2 separate regions of the Homo sapiens genome follow, and region 2 is linked to region 1. Evidence: fine-mapped expression QTL. A gene starts in region 1. The other region holds a variant in brackets. All regions are shown on one strand. Distances are from middle to middle.

Region 1 (8,328 bases):
AAGTGCATCTAAAAATATTCAATTTGAAACATTCATTTGAAAACATTTTTTTAAAGGGTTGAAGTTGGTTAGAAAGGGCTGTGGATTGGAAACTAAGGGGGCAGCTAGTAGACACCACACACCTGGCTCAGGCTTGCATACTGCTGGCTACCTGCTCAGCACCCATCCGCCTTCCTCCTTTCTGAAGGACTGCTGTTCAGTTCTGGTCAACTCACTGTCAGCTCCAGGTCTAAGAGTAACCAGACTCCTTGCCACTCATTGGTTTCGGAATGAGCATGAGACATAATTCATAACAAGGCAAAGGGAAAAAAAGATCTGCTGGGCTTTCTGAGAATATTCTTATCAGTTCTTCTGGAAGCAGTTGTCTCTATTACTCCCAGATGTCCAGCAGGCTGTGTGTTCCAGAGCCATTCAGCCCAGAGTGACACAGGAACAGACCAGGAGAGGGGGACTGAGTTGCTCCCAAAGTCCTGCCACAGGACCTCCAATTCCATGCACAAGGGCAGCTCAGCCTCTGTCACTTGCAGCCAAGACATCCTAACTAGTGGTGGCCCAATGGTGCCATCTCACCACGGCAGGCTTGACACACTTTTAAAGTTGTATTTCCTACAATTCTGTTGTTTTTCCCCAGGAATTGCTACAGAATTTGCAGGGCCTTGTGAATGTGAAAATGTAGGGTCTCAAGTTCGATAATTATTAAGAATTTCCTGATAGTGACAGCAGAGCATAAAACCAAAGGCAGAGCCCATCCAAGCCTGGGGCCCTGTGAGAGTGAATGCGTCACACACACATGAAGCCAGCCCTGACCTTGATTCTTGTTTTGCTTTTGTTTTAAGACAGGGTCTCACTCTGGTTGCCCAGGCTGGAGTGCAGTGGTGAGGCTCACTGCAGCCTTGACCTCCTGGGCTCAGGTGATTCTCCCACCTTAGCCTCCTAAGTAGCTGGGATTACAGGTGTGTGTCACCACGCTTGGCTAATTTTTTTTTTAATTTTTATTTACTTTTTTTTTTTTTTTTTAAGACAGAGTCTCGCTCTGTCACCCAGGCTGGAGTGCAGTGGCACAATCTCAGCTCACTGCAACCTCCACTCCTGGGTTCAAGCAATTCTCCTGCCTCAGCCTCCCAAGTAGCTGGGATTACAGGCATGCACCACCATGCCCAGCTAATTTTTTTGTATTTTTATTACAGAAGAGGTTTCAGTAAGTTGGCCAGGCTGGTCTCAAACTCCTGACCTTAAATGATACACCCGCCTTGGCCTCCCAAAATGCTGTGATTACAGGCATGAGCCACCTCACCCGGCCATTTTTTTATTTTTAGTAGAGATGGAATTTTGCTGTGTTGCCCAGTTGGTCTCCAACTCCTGGACTCAAGCAATCCACCTGCCTCGGCCTCCCAGAGTGCTGGGATATAGGCATGAGCCACTGTACCCAGCCTGTCCTTGATTCTTATCAAGGAAAAGTTCTCCCTGGCCTTATGATTTCAATTACCTTGGATCTATAGTTGACATTTCATGCTCAAGGCCCAAACTTGTTTTTCCAAACGCTCCCTTTTATAAATCTTATCAGCCTACACATTTGAATATGTAGGCTCAAACCTTTATTCCTTAATCTCTCCTACCCTCCTCCCTGCCTTCAAAACTTCTGATTCCCCATCCTAGACACTGACACCACCATCCACTAAGTGACCCATTTTGTACACCTCCTTGTTTCACTTTCACCACATCCTCTCCTCGAGTCCTGTCAATTCCACTTCTGCAATGTGGTCCAGGCACTGCTCTGGCCTAGCATCCATTCCATGGTCATTAATTTGGACAAAGCCTCTACTGAACCTTCACAACAGCCTCTAGTCTCCCTCTGTCCCACTTCCGGCCACACTGCTGCCAGAAAGATCTTTTTAGAACACAGATCTCAGCATGTCATTCACCTGCTTCAAAGTCCTAGGATGACAGATGACCCCTTTCAGAGAATAACTCATCAGAATTATCTCTCTTTTGGACAGCTATTTATTTAAAAAAAAAAAAAAGAGTCATACTCTCAGAGATCCTGTAATTCCACCTCTGGCAATCAAACCCAGTAATGTGAATTAAGGAAAAGGCTCATTGTACAATGATGGTTGATCTGGTTTGGATATTTGTCCCCCCCAAATCTCATGCTGAAATGTGATCGCCAGTGTTGGAGGTGGGGCCTAGTGGGAGGTATCTGGGTCGTGGGGGCGGATTCCTCATGAATGGCTTGGTGGCCCCCCCACAATAATAAGTGAGTGCTCACTCTATTAGTTCATGTGAGATCTGGGTGTTTAAAAGAGGTGGCATCTCTCTTGCTCCCTCTCTTACCAGGTGACACGCCTGCTTCTCCTTTGCTTTCTGCCATGATTGTAAGCTTCCTGAGGCCTCACCAGAAGCAGATGCTGGCACCATGCTTCTTGTACAGCCTGCAGAACCGAGAGCCAAATAAACCTCTTTTCTTTATTAATTACCCAGCCTCAGATATTCCTTTATAGCAACACAAAACAGACTAATACACAGTTCGTAACAGCAAATACTTAGTGAAGAATTTTGAACAATAACAGCAGCTAACTCGTATTGAGTGTTTGGTATACAGCAAGCATGTGCTAAACACATTTCATAGCATTTAATTCTCAAAACAACTCTGTAAACATGTAGGACTGGGAGGCTAGGAATGATAAAGTGCCTTGCCCAAGGTCCCACTATAAGTGACCTCACATTCTCTAACCCAGGTCTGTCTGACACCCAAGTCCATACTTTTACCTACTACAGGTAATGACTAAATAAGTTACTAGTCATGTACTTGTGGAAAGTTAATGTTAAAAATTAGTTATAGGACTGGGCATGGTGTCTCACGTTGTAATCCCGCCACTTTAGGAGGCAGAGGCAAGAGGACCGCTTAAGCCCAGGAGTATGAGACCAGCCTGGGCAACATATCGAGACACTGTCTCTACAAAAAATAAACAATTGGCTGGCATGGTGGCATGTAGTCCCAGCTACCCAGGAAGCTGAGGAGGGAGGATCACTTGAACCTAGAAGGTTGAGGCTGCAGTGAGCCATGATTGTGCCACTGTACTCCAGCCTGGGCGATACTCCAGCCTGGGCGACAGAGCAAGACCTCAAAAAAAAAAAAAAAAAAAGTTATAAATACTACTTCACAACATGCTTACATTTACTATTATGTGAATAAGTGGAATACAAAATGCAGTATAATTGTTTTAAATATAGAAAAAAAACTGAAGGTAGGTATGCTAAAATGTTAACAAATAGTAAAGTGATAGAATTAGAAATACTTCTTTCTTCTACTGTTGTGCGTTTTCCAAATTCTAGTGAATGCATTAAACCCTCATGGACTCCCTCTTACCTGCAGGATAAAAACCAGTTACTTCAGCACTGCTCCTAAGGACCACCCAAGTCCACACCATCTGCCCTTCAGCTTCCCCGCTACCCTGTCAGTCCTCCAAGCCTCGTAGTCTCCCCGTTGCAGGGAAAGCCTTTTCCCCTTTTCCCCACCTGCCGAGTTCCTACTCATCCCTTAGGACCCAGCTTCTTCCTGGATACCCTTCTGGATACCCACCCAGCCCTTCTGGATACCCTACAGGGGGAACCCGCTGTCCAGAAGCCTGCAGGTGGCCCCACGGCGCCCCGCCCGCATGACGCAGCCCTCGTGGCCACGGCCCGGCCCCGCCCCGCGCTCGCGCAATCCCTTTCTCAGGCTGCGTTCGCTTTTCAGGCTGCGCGGGAGGCTGTTCTGCCTCCTTCCCAGGCAGGTGTATCCGCGACTCGCGGAGCCTCCGTCACCTTTCACTTCACGGCAGCGGCGCCCCGCCCACACCTCGACGCTTCGGACACCCAAAGAGTTGGAGGGTGGGAAAGTGCGTACCTTCTGGATCCGCTTTAGCGCCATCCTACCCCGCTGCCGGGGACCCGGGCGGCCCGGCCGGGGCTGCCTGAGGCGGCCCGCTGCCGGCTCAGCCGCCACCAAGCTGCACGCCGGGAGCCGCAGCCTGCGCTTGCGCGCGCGGGGCACTGTGGGGCCGTCGTCGCCGCGTGCCGAGCGTCCTGGCGCGGCCGAGGGGAAGCAGCGGGGCTGCCCGGGTTACGCTGGCCACCCGCACCTGGTCCTGTGGCTTCGACCACTAGTCAGCAAGGCCCCGGAGAGGCCAGCGAAGAGGAGGGGCTCGTTGGCTTTACGGAGACGCGCGGAGCACCCTCAAGGTGCCACACGCTCGCCTGCTCCCTGTTCCTACATCCTGGGCGTCTTCCCAGGCTGTCATATAACTCCTGAGAATAGTGGTTCTTAACTCTGTAAGTATATATACCCTCGTACGCCTTATGGCTGGATGCGTTACAGCCATTTCCATGTAGATGTCTGTGCATACGTTCACACGCAAAACTCTCCGCAGTTTTGGAGATCTCCGTGTTCAGTCGTACCTCACGTGATCTTGCACTGCCAACATTGAGAACCCTGGCCTTAGACTATGCATCTCCCAAACTTAATTATCTGTCTCCTTCCTATTTTCCCAAGACTTGGCAGGCGTCTAGGTCAGAGTTGTTCAAACTGAGGGTTATGAACTAGTGTGTCACGAAATCAATTTAATAGGTTGCAACCAACATTTTTTTGAAAAAAAAAAAAAAAAAGCCAGACGAGGTGGCTCACGCCTATAATCCCAGCACTTTGGGAGGCCGAGGCAGGCGGATCACTTGAGGTCAGGAGTTCGAGACCAGCCTGGCCAACATGCTGAAACTCCGTCTCTACTAAAAATACAGAAATTAGCTGGGCGTAGTGACGTATGCCTGTAATCCCAGCTACTTGAGAGGCTGAGGCACGAGAATCACTTGAACCCAGGAGGCAGAGGTTGCAGTGAGCTGAGATCACACTGTTGCACTCCAGCCTGGGTGACAGAGCGAGACTCTGTCTCAAAAATAATAAAAAATAAAAATAAAAAAACAGAATAAAATATCAGTGCATTTCACATAGTAAAGGTAAGAATTGTGGAAGTTTTGTTGGTGTGTGTATGTAGATGATATTTAATCTTCAGACTGAGACATGTTTGAGCATGAAAGTGGCTGTTAATATAATTACTCTGGGACCAACGCTGTAATCTAGAATTGTCTCCAGCCAGCCAAGACACATGGTCACCTCTATGTTTGTACTCAGTCAGCATATAAAATGTATTATAGACATTTCAATAGTTGCCCAGCTTTGTCCCTGGCTTTCACGCTCCCATTCCCCCAATCTGTCCTCCACACAACTTCATGAACTGTCTGAAATATAAAGCTTACCACACTGCATCCTTACCCAGAACTCTTCAAGGAAGCCCCGTGGCCTACAGCATCACATTCACTGTCATCCAGGGGCCTTCAAAATCCAGGATCCTCGGCCGGGCACAGTTACTCATGCCTGTAATCCCAGCACTTTGGGAGGTTGAGGTGGGTGGATCCCTTAGTCCAGGAGTTCTAGACCATCCTGGGCAACATGGTGAAACCCCGTCTCTACAAAAAATACAAAACTTAGCTGGGCATGGTGGTGTGCACCTGTAGTCCCAGCTACTTGGGAGGCTTACTTGAGCCCAGGAGATCAAAGTTGCAGTGAGTTGTGATGGCACCACTGCACTCCAGGCTGGGAGACAAAGCAAGACCCTGTCTCAAAAAAACAAAAACTCAAAGTATCCTCCAGCTTTACCTTCTCCTTCCTACCTCCAGCCCACCTGACTATCAAGTGTTTCCATCACCACAGCATCTACATTCCTTGACTAGAGCATTCACCTTCCAAAGCCAGCTCAAGCATCACCCATTGAACAGCCCAAGTCAAGCACTTCCCCTTGGTGTCAAACATTGACAACAGAAATTTTTGTTAGTCCATGGGCCATCCATCCTCCTACATTATTGACATGGCCTTCCCTCCCCATAAAACAAGTGATTCTAGATTTTATAAATGTTGATATATTTGTGTAAGAATATATAAATGGTTATTTATGTGCTAATAATGTATATGGTGGTTTTGAAGTCTCAAATCTCAAAAATATTACTTTTGGATGGTAGGTTTACTAATGTGTTAATCTCTAAAATTTCTACAGAGAATTTGCATCATTTGTATAATTCAGGAAAAAAACATATAATAGAAAATGAAAAATTCTGTTTCTATTCCCTGTTGGTAGTTTAGTGCATAGTTTTCTAAACTTTTTAGCATGCTTATATGTAATGTTTCATTTTTAACATTGAAATAATTTTAGATGTACAGAAATGTTGCAAGAATAATACACAATTGGTCAGGTGCAGTGGCTTATGCCTGTAATCGCAGCACTTTGGGAGGTCAAGGCAGGTGGATTGCTTGAGGCCAGGAGTTTGAGCTCAGCCTGGCCAACATGGTGAGACCCCATCTCTACAAAAAATACAAAATTTAGCCAGGTGTGGTGGCATGCACCTGTAGTCCCAGCTACTTGGGAGGCTCAGGCTCAATAATTGTTTGAACCCAGGAGGCAGAGATTGCAGTGAGCTGAGATTGCACCACTGCCCTTCAACCTGGGCAACAGCGAGACTGTGTCTCAAAAAAAAAATAATAATAATACACAAAAGATTTTTAAATGGATAAATTTGACTACATGAAAGTTTAAAACTTTTGTGCTTCAAGCAATACCAACTAGAAAACAAAAAGACAACACACAGAATGCGAGAAAATGTTTGAAATAATAATATCTCAGTACAGTCTAAGATGCAGAGTATATTAAGAACATTTAGAACTCAATAAAAAAGACAAATAACCCAATTAAAAACTGGGCAAAAGATGTGAATAGAAATTTCTTCAAAGAAGATACTCAACTGGACAATAAGCACATTTTAAAAAAATCAGGCTGGGTGTGGTGGCTCAGGCCTGTAATCTCAACACTTTGGGAAGCTGAGGTTGGAGGATTGCTCGAGGCCAGGAGTTTGAGACCAGATTGGGCAACATAGCGAACCCCTGATTCTACAGAAAAATTTAAAAGTTAGCTGGATGTGGTGGTGTGCATCTGAGGGCACAGCTATTCGGGAGGTTGAGGTATGATTATTGCTTGATTCCAGGAATTTGAGGCTGCAGGGAGCTATGATTGAGCCACTGTACTCCAGCCCAGGAGACAGAGCAAGACCCTGTCTCTTTGGGAAAAAAAAAAAAAAAAAGGCTGGGCACAGTGGCTCACACCTGTAATTCCAGCACTTTGGGAGGCCAAAGAGGGCAGATCATGAGGTCAGGAGTTTGAGACCAACCTGGCCAATATGGTGAAACCCCATCTCTACTAAAAATACAAAAATCAGCTTGGCATGGTGGTGCATGCCTGTAATCTCAGCCAGTTGGGAGGCTGAAGCAGGAGAATCGCTTGAACCTGGGAGACAGAGGTTGCAATGAGCCGAGATTGTACCACTGCACTCCAGCAGCCTGGGCAACAGAGCGAGACTCCTTCTAAAAGAAAGAAAGAAAGTAAGAGAGAGAGAGAGGAGAAAGAGAGAGAAAGAGAGAAGGAAAGAAAGAAAGAAAGACGGAAAGAAAGAGAAAGAAAGAAAGAAAGAGAAAGAAAAAAAAATGCCTGGTGTGGTGGCTTACATCTATAATCCCAGCAGTTTGGGTGACTGTGGTGGGAGGATCACCCAATCCAGGAGTTCAGGACCAGCTTGGGCAACATGGCAAGACCCCATCTCTACAAGAAAAAAAATTTTTTTTCTTCACCAAAAGCAGATACTTGAAAAAATTTTAAGAATTAGTAGAGCATGGTGGCGCATGCCTGTAGTCCCAGCTATGATTGCTTGGGCCTAGGAGGTTGAGGTTGCTGTGAGCCCCATTCACGCTACTGCATTCCAGCCTGGGAAACAGAGCAAGACCCTGTCTCAAGAAAATAATAATCATGAGTTATAAGGGACATGCAAATCAAAGCCATAATGAGATACCACTTCACACCCTCTAGGATGGCTGTAATTAAAGGGACAGACAACAAGTGTTGACAAAGATGTGGAGAAGTTGGAACCCTCACACATTCTGGTGCGACTATAAAATGGTGCAGTCATTTTTGGAAAAGAGTTTAGCAGTTCCTCAGAAAGTTAAGTGATACCAAGTATGGTGGCTCACACCTGTAATCCTAGCACTTTGGGAGGCCAAGGCAGGTGGATCACCTGAGGTCAGGAGTTCGAGACCAGCCTGGCCAACATGGTGAAACCCTGTCTCTACTAAAAATACAAAAATTATCCAAGTGTGATGGTGCACACCTGTAATCCCAGGTATTCGGGAGGCTGAGGCAGAATCGCTTGAACCTGGGAGGTGGAGGTTGCCAGGAGCCAAGATCGCGCCACTGCACT
Region 2 (8,328 bases), 43 kb before region 1:
CAGAGCCTGGGGGCCTGGGAGGGCGAAAGGCTTGAGCATGTGGGTGTGCACATGCGTGGCTCCATGGTGCATGCACCACATACACACGTGTGTGTGCAGGCATGCGGGCACAAGTGTGCATGGACTACACGTGTGCGTGCAGGTGTGAGCTGTGAGATGGGCACCCAGAGAGTGTGAGCTTGGCATGTGTGGGCATGTGAGAAACCTATCACATCCCCCTAGAGGGTCCAGAACCCACAGCCTACAGAAGGGCCACAGGTCCAGCTCTGTTGGGTTACTCTGGAAATGACATCGGTGTCCACCACCCTGCTCCCCCCGGGGGGGCCCTGAACTTGGTGGGAGGTCCCAGAGGGCAGATACTGAAGCCCTGCCCAGCTCTGCCTCCATCTCCCTCCTCTAGCCGGGACGACGTTATCGGAAAGGTCTGCCTTACAAGGGACACCATAGCTTCTCACCCTAAGGGTAAGTTCTCCCTTCCCTCCCGCACTGGTCTGCCCAGTCCCTGGCCTCCCTCCCACTCAGAGACCTCCCCTCTAGGCTCCGTCTGGTCTCCTGCTCAGGGAAAGCCATTTCTACTCTCCCCAGAAGCCGGGGCCACGTTCTGTACTCCTGGCCTCTGTTCTGCAGCATGTTCCCAAGCCTGGTTGTTACTGCCTCTTCCCTAGGGTGAAGAGGGGCTGCTATGGGTGGAATCTGAGGCCTCTGCTGGCAGAAGAAGGGGCCTCCTTACACTCTATTGCTGAAGCATAGGGACCCCTTCTCCAAATCAGGCCAGCTCCTTCTGTAACCCATGGGGTCTCCTCCATCTGGGCCCTAGTACTACTGTGTCCTAAGTCTGAAGGGTTGGCCTAGAGCCAGTCCAGGCTGGAGATCCCTTTCAATTATTTCTGGGATGCAGACATTGTTTTGTGTTATTGTTTTTACAATTTTTATATAGTTTTTTAAAAAAAGAAAAGGCCGGGCACGGTGGCTCACACCTGTAATCCCAGCACTTTGGGAGGCCGAGACGGGTGGATCACGAGGTCAGGAGATCGAGACCATCCTGGCTAACATGGTGAAACCCCGTCTCTACTAAAAATACAAAAAAATTAGCTGGGCTTGGTGGCAGGCACCTGTAGTCCTAGCTACTTGGCAGGCTGAAGCAGGAGAATGGCGTGAACCCGGGAGGCAGAGCTTGCAGTAAGCCGAGATCGCGCCACTGCACTCCAGCCTCAGCAACGGAGCAAGACTACACCTCAAAAATAAATAAATAAATGAATAAAAAATAAAAATAAAAAATAAAATAGAGGCCGGGTGCAGTGGCTCACACCTATAATCCCAGCACTTTGGGAGGCCGAGGCAGGTGGATCACCTGAGGTCAGGAGTTCAAGACCAGCCTGGCCAACATGGCAAAACTCTGTCTCTACTAAAAATACAAAAAATTAGCTGGACGTGGTGGTGGGCACCTGTAATCCCAGCTACTCAGGCGGCTGTGGCAGGAGAATCGCTTGAATCCAGGAGGCGGAGGTTGCAGTGAGTCAAAATCACGCCATTGCACTCCAACCTGGATGACAGAGCAAGCTCCATCTCCAAAAGAAAAACAAAGATGGAGGCCGGGCATGGTGGCTCACACCTGTAATCCCAGTGGCAATTCACTTGAGATTAGGAGTTCAAGACCAGCCTCGTCAACATGGTGAAACCCTGTCTCTACTAAAAATATAAAAATTACCTGGGCATGGTGGCACTCACCTGTAATCCCAGCTACTAGGGAGGCTGAGACAGGAAAATCTCTTGAACCTGGGAGGCAGAGGTTGCAGTGAGCCAAGATTGCGCCATTGCACTCCAGCCTAGGTGACAGAGCAAGACTCTGTCTCAAAAAAAAAAAAAAAAATGGAGATGGGGGGTCTCACTCTGTTGCCCAGGCTGGTCTTGAACTCCTGGCTTTGACAGATCCTCCCGCCTTGGCCTCCCCAAGGTGCTAGGATTACAGGTGTGAACCACCATGCTCTGCCAGACATGATTTTGAGGGTTCAGCCCTGTGCCAGCCTCACTGTGTGTGACCTTGGGCAGCTCTTGCCTTCTCTGGGCTTCTCTGAGGGTTCAAACCAGTTCTTGGATGCTATGGGCTCTGCCATCAGAGCCTTTGTGTCCCGCTTACTGGCTTGCCCCCACACACACCTGCTCCTGTCTGTGACGCTGGGCCAGGGATGGGGGCAGGGCGGAGGCAGGTTCTGCTGACTCATGGGGCTTCTTGGCCCCTGCCAGGCCAAAGGCCTTTCCCACCTGCAGCCTTAGCCAGCGTCTCTGGGGTCTAGTGGCCCCAGTGAGGCTATTCCTCCGGGTGCCTTGTAGCTTCCCCATCCAGGCCTCAGACCCTCCTCCCAGCAGCCCTAGGGGAGGGCCACTCTCTTCCTGTTTTAAGATGGGGAATCTGGCTGGGTACAGCGGCCCACACTTATAATCCCAGCACCTTAGGAGGCTGAGGTGGGAGGATGGCTTGAGGTCAGGAGTTTGAGACCAGCCTGAGCAACATAGCAAGACTCCATCTTTTTTTTTTTTTTGAGATGGGGTCTTGCTCTGTCACCCAGTCTGGAGTGCAATGGCGCAATCTTGTAGCTTCTCCATCTGGGCCTCAGACCCTCCTCCCAGCAGCCCTAGGGGAGGGCCACTCTCTTCCCGTTTTAAGATGGGGAATCTGGCTGGGTACAGCGGCCCACGCTCATAATCCCAGCACCTTGGGAGGCTGAGGTGGGAGGATTGCTTGAGGTCAGGAGTTTGAGACCAGCCTGAGCAACATAGCAAGACTCCATCTTTTTTTTTTTTTTTTTTTTTTTTTTTTTGAGATGGGGTCTTGCTCTGTCACCCAGTCTGGAGTGCAATGGTGCGATCTGAGTTCAAGTAATTCTCCTGCCTCAGCCTCCTGAGGAGCTGGGATTACAGGCATGCGCCACCACACCTGGCTCACAGGGTGAGACCCTGTCTCTAAAAACAACAACGACAAAAATGACACAATAGTGAGGGCACAGGCCCCAGGTCACTGACTTAGATTCTAATCCCAGCTCTTCCAACTGCTGTTTCTTCACCTGCTGAGCCTCAGTTTCCCCATCTGTCATTGGGGATACCAGCCCCTGCTTCACGGGTGCCTAGGGGATTCCCAGGAGATTATGGAGGTGCCTCAAGGTGCCTGGTAGGGCTGAGGGTGGAGGGTATGGGGGTTCAGGGCCGTGTCCCTGGCTGAGCTGACCCCACAGGTTTCAGCGGGTGGGCCCACCTGACGGAGGTTGACCCTGATGAGGAGGTGCAGGGCGAGATCCACCTGCGGCTGGAAGTGCGCCCAGGGGCCCGGGCCTGCCAGCTACGCTGCTCTGTGCTGGAGGCCAGGTGAGACTCAGGGGCCTGGGGGCGGGCAGTGGGTCCCCTGCAACTAGAGAAACCCAATGAGGAAGCTGAGCCCCCCCTCGCCCCACCTCTACCTCCTGGTCCCAGAGCTGGCCACCTCCCATCAAAGCCTGCTCTCAAGAGAGGGTCTCGCCAGGCACAGTGTCTCACACCTGTAATCCCAGCACTTTAGGAGGCCGAGGCAGGTGGTTCACCTGAGGCCAGGAGTTCAAGACCAGCCTGACCACCATGGTGAGACCCTGTCTCTACTAAAAATACAACAATTAGCCGGGCATGGTGGCAGGCGCCTGTAATCTCAGCTACTCAGGAGGCTGAGGCAGGAGTCTTGAACCCAGGAGGCAGAGGTTGCAGTGAGCCGAGATGGCGCCACTGCACTCCAGCCTGGGTGACAAGCGAGACTGCATCTCAAAAAAAAAAAAAAAAAA[G/AG]AAAGAAAAAAGAGAGGGTCTGGGGAGGTTTTCTGGACTTGAAGATGCTTCTTGGGTGATTTCCACTCAAGGGGATATGTCCCTTAAGGGACAGTCTAATGTTCTCATGGAGGAACTGGAGCCATCACAGAGGAGTGGAGTAGGGGGTACGGGTGAGGAGACCCCGAACTCTGATCACACAGCCTCAGTCCCCCAGTGCTAAGGCCGGCTTCCTTATGTTTAACGCCAGTGTGAACTTGGCCTGGTGGGAGTGTGTGTAAGTGGGTCCCTCGTGGGGCTGGGGGGGTGAAAAGAGTTGCTGAAAATCTCCCGATGGGCAAATTGAGGGTTCCCCCAAGGAGGGACAGTGGTTTGGATGGTTCCATGGGCCTGAGTCACCTGTGACAGGGCCACCCCCCAACCCCCAGGGTATTTTTAGCTGCAGGCTGCACTCCCGTCTGGGCCTGGGTCTGAGTCACACTCTGTCCGTGAGAAGCGTCTTCCCTTCCAGCTCCAAACCCACCTCCCCAAGTTGCTCCCTGCCTGTGAGGCAGGAGGGTGGCCCCCAGCCAGGCAGCCCTATGGAGCCAGTGTTCCCCCCACCCTTGAGGGGTCAGCCTGTCTAAGAGGAAGACTTCCCTTGGGCAGAGGGGTGTGGGTCGGATGATGCCCATGTTGCTCACTCTGGCTTCCCGGGAGTTATTTTCTGTCCTGGGAAAATAGAAATGGATGGAAAATGTCTGGGCTTGGGCCGAGCCTCAGCCACGCCCCCACACTCGCTCACTCTCTGGCCCTGCCATTCATTCCCCCCCGCCCCACCCCAACTCACCTGCTTCTTCCATCCTTATCCTTTCTGGGCACCAGGCTGTCTGGGGGACAGGCATGCACACGTGTGCACCCGCTCACACACGTGGCCGGGCTCTGGGACCTCGGGGCCACTTCTCCCAGGCACCCATCGTCACCCACGGAGATGGGAGGCATGGAAGCATGTCTCCCTGGCCCTCCCCTCTCTCCAGGAATCTCCCCTCTCCCATCCTCTGGGGCCACAGTGGTTGGCCTTCTAGTGAGTCCTAGCAGGGGAGAGGAATGTCCAGGCCTCTCTCAGAGTGAGGGGACTTGTCCCCCGTTGTCCTCGGCAATGAGACTCCTGCTGCAATTCCAAGTCAGCCTAAGAAGGTCCATTTGCTGCAGAGGAAGAAAGAACATTTCCTCCTTATTTTTTCTGGGGAGATTCTCAATATTTCAGTAAAACCTTGGGGTTTTTTTGTTTTTTGTTTTTGAGACAATCTCGCTCCATCATCCAGGCTGGAGTGCAGTGGCCCGATCTCAGCTCACTGCAACCTCCACCTTCTGGGTTCAAGCAATTCTCCTGCCTCAGCCTCCCTAGTAGCTGGGATTACAGGTGTGCACCACCACGCCTGGCTAATTTTTTGTAGTTTTAGTAGAGACGAGACTTCACTATGTTGGCTAGGCTGGTCTCAAACTCCTGACCTCAGGTGATCTGCCTGCCTCGGCCTCCCAAAGTACTGGGATTACAGGCGTGAGCCACTGCACCCGGGCTGTTTTTTTTTTTGGTGTTTTTTTTTTTTTTGAGGCAGTCTGGCTCTGTCGCCCAGGCTGGAGTGCAGTGGCGTTTTCTTGGCTCACTGCAACCTCTGCCTCCCCAGGTTCAAGCAATTCTCCTGCCTCAGCCTCCTTCCCAAAGTGCTGGGATTATAGGAATGAGCCGCTGCACCCAGCCTCAATGTTGGGGGGTTTTATTAGACAGTCTTGAGGGGGAAGAAAGGCAGGTATGAGAGGCTTAAAATATCGAAGATGAGTGGGCTTTGGTGTTCTTCCACAAAGAGTTCTAAGTAGGGGATACTGGCAGGGTGCAGCGGCTCACTCCAGTAATCCCAGTGCTTTGGGAAGCAGAGGTGGGAGGATCTCTTGAGGCCCGGATTTCGAGACCAGCCTGGGCAACAGCAAGATCCAGTCTCTACAAAAAAATTTAAAAATTAGCCAGGTGTGGTGGGGCACACCTATAGTGCCAACTACTTGGGAGGCTGACGTGGGAGGATTGCTTGAGCCCAGGAGGTGGAGGCTGCAGTGAGCTATGATTGCATCACTGTACTCCAGCCTGAGCAACAGAGCAAGACCCTGTTTAAAAAAAAAAAGAAAAGAATAAAAGGGCCAGGCGCGGTGGCTCACGCCTGTAATCCCAGCACTTTGGGAGGCCAAGGCAGGCGGATCACCTGAGGTCAGGAGTTTGAGGGCAGCCTGGCCAACCTGGTGAAACCCTGTCTCTACTAAAAATACGAAAATTAGCTGGGCGTAGCGGCAGGCCCCTGAAATCCCAGCTACTTGGGAGGCTGAGGCAGGAGAATCACTTGAACCCAGAAGGCGGAGGTTGCAGTGAGCTGAGATCGTGCCACTGCACTCCAGCCTGGGCGACAGAGCAAGACTGTTTCAAAAACAAAACAAAACAAACAAAACAAAAACATATGTGTGCAGGTATCTTTTTTGTATAATGACTTCTCCTCTGGGTAGATATCCAGTAGTGGGATTGCTGAATCAAATGGTAGTTCTACTTTTAGTTAGTTAAGGAATCTCCGCTGTTTTCCATAGTGGTTGTACTAGTTCACATTCCCACCAGCAGTGTAGAGGTATTCCCTGTTCACCACATCCTCATAGTCAGTACTGTTCTGCTGTGTGGCCTCGGATACATCTTTTCCCCACCCTGGGCCTCAGTTCTCCCCATCTGAGAAATGGGTGGGAGCTTGGACAGGACATTTTAACCTCTGCTGTGGCAGAACCTCCAAGGCGAGGAGGCTGTGGGGAACCCAGGGGAGGTGTCTAGGGCAGCTCTGCCTTTTGCCCAGCCTGGGGAGTCCAGTGGCATCAGCCTAACCCCCTCCCACCCTCCTCTGGGCAGATCATGAAGAAGTCATGCTACCCACGCTGGAATGAGACGTTTGAATTTGAGCTGCAGGAGGGGGCCGTGGAGGCGCTGTGCGTGGAGGCCTGGGACTGGGACCTTGTCAGCCGAAACGACTTCCTGGGCAAAGTGAGCACCACCGCCCCGCCCCCCCTCCTCCCCCGGCAGGCTGCACCTGCTGTCCCCCAGCACCTGGCTCCATTGCAGCCATCCCATCCTCAGGGACCTCCTTCTGGCTTCCCCAAAGAGGGACACTCAGGAAGCCTGGGACTACCCCCCCACCTCCACCGTCTGCCAGAACCAGCAACTTCCCCCCACCACCACTGGCACTCAGGGACCCTTGGAAGAGGCCCCTCCCCACTAAGAACAGTAGTTGGCAAGGAGGAGACCTAAGTCTCCCAGCTCCAGGAAAACTGCCACTATGTCCCCAGGTGGTGATCGATGTCCAGAGACTGCGGGTGGCGCAGCAGGAGGAGGGCTGGTTCCGGCTGCAGCCCGACCAGTCCAAGAGCCGGCAGCATGACGAGTAAGTGCATGGAGCTGGGCAGCCGGCCTCAAGGGGTGGGGTGGGGGCTGACATTTGGGAATTGGCTACAGGCAGGCAGGGCAGGGGGGCTGCTCAGGGGTGAGAGGTCAGGAGACACAGCTCCAGGGTCCCCTCAGCCCCTGCCCACCTAGCCAGCATCCTTCTCATCCCGGCTGGGCTCCACCTCCCCTTTATTTATTATTTATTTATTTATTTATTTATTTATTTATTTATTTATTTATTTATTTTGAGATGGAGTCTCACTCTGTCCCCAGGCTGGAGTGCAATGGCGTGATCTCGACTCACTGCAGGCTCTGCCTCCCAGGTTCACGCCATTCTCCTGCCTCAGCCTCCCAAGTAGCTGGGACTACAGGCACCCGCCACTGCGCCTGGCTAATGTTTTGCATTTTTAGTAGAGACAGGGTTTCACCATGTTAGCCAGGATGGTCTCGATCTCCTGACCTGGTGATCCACCTGCCTCGGCCTCCCCAAGTACTGGGATTACAGGCATGAGCCACCGCGCCCGGCCCCTCCCCTTTATTTTTCCCCACAGTTCTGCATTCAGCTCAGCTCTGTCTTCTGTCTTTTTTTTTTTTTTTTTTTTTTTTTTGAGATGGAGTCTTGCTCTGTCACCCAGGCTGGAGTGCAGCGGCACAATCTTGGCTCACTGCAACCTCCACCTCCTGGGTTCCAGTGATCCTCCTGCCTCAACCTCCTGATTAGTTGGGATTACAACTGTGTGCCACCATGCTCGGCTAATTTTTGTATTTTTAGTAGAGACAGGGTTTCACCATGTTGGCCAAGTTGGTCTCGAACACCTGACCTCAAGTGATCCACCCGCCTCAGCCTGCCAAAGTGCTAGGATTACAGGCATGGGCCACCAAACCCGGCCAGGTCTGTCTTCTTAGCTCACAGGTTGTACAGGTCTCCTGCTTTCTGCCTCTGGAAGTTTCTGAAACAAGTACTCAGACATTTTCCCTTTGAAAATTTCCCTGCAGACCTCAGACCAGGGTTCAAGTCTCCAAGGTCAGTGTCCCTGAGCCATAGCTCCAACTCCCTATGCCAGATTCTCCAGGAATAGGGTTGTGAGATAAGATAGGACA

Which allele goes with the higher level. Alleles are on the strand shown, and positions count from the first base shown. SD is a standard deviation of normalised expression in the study named.
For the expression in monocytes of the gene that starts at base 4,007 in region 1, AG is the high allele of the variant in region 2 and G is the other (large effect, 0.77 SD a copy in Kim-Hellmuth 2017).

Evidence for each region. PIP is the estimated chance that this variant, and not a neighbour inherited with it, causes the effect. A credible set is the group of variants that fine-mapping cannot tell apart.
Region 2: its variant is the best candidate, but not a certain one, in a credible set for the expression of UBE2D4 in monocytes (Kim-Hellmuth 2017, PIP 0.73).

What each region holds. Positions count from the first base shown.
Region 1 is chr7:43,922,115-43,930,442 of GRCh38, reverse strand. It overlaps UBE2D4 (ubiquitin conjugating enzyme E2 D4), which reads right to left and starts at 4,007. Exons shown (of 7, transcript NM_015983.4): 1 at 3,887-4,007. The coding sequence starts at 3,910. It also overlaps a transcript of URGCP not described here. RefSeq lists a silencer at 3,574-4,113.
Region 2 is chr7:43,964,764-43,973,091 of GRCh38, reverse strand. It overlaps the pseudogene POLR2J4. Among named protein-coding and RNA genes, the nearest start is that of SPDYE1, 29 kb to the left of the region's middle. RefSeq lists an enhancer at 1,695-2,212. The variant G/AG (reference allele first, on the strand shown) is at 3,804.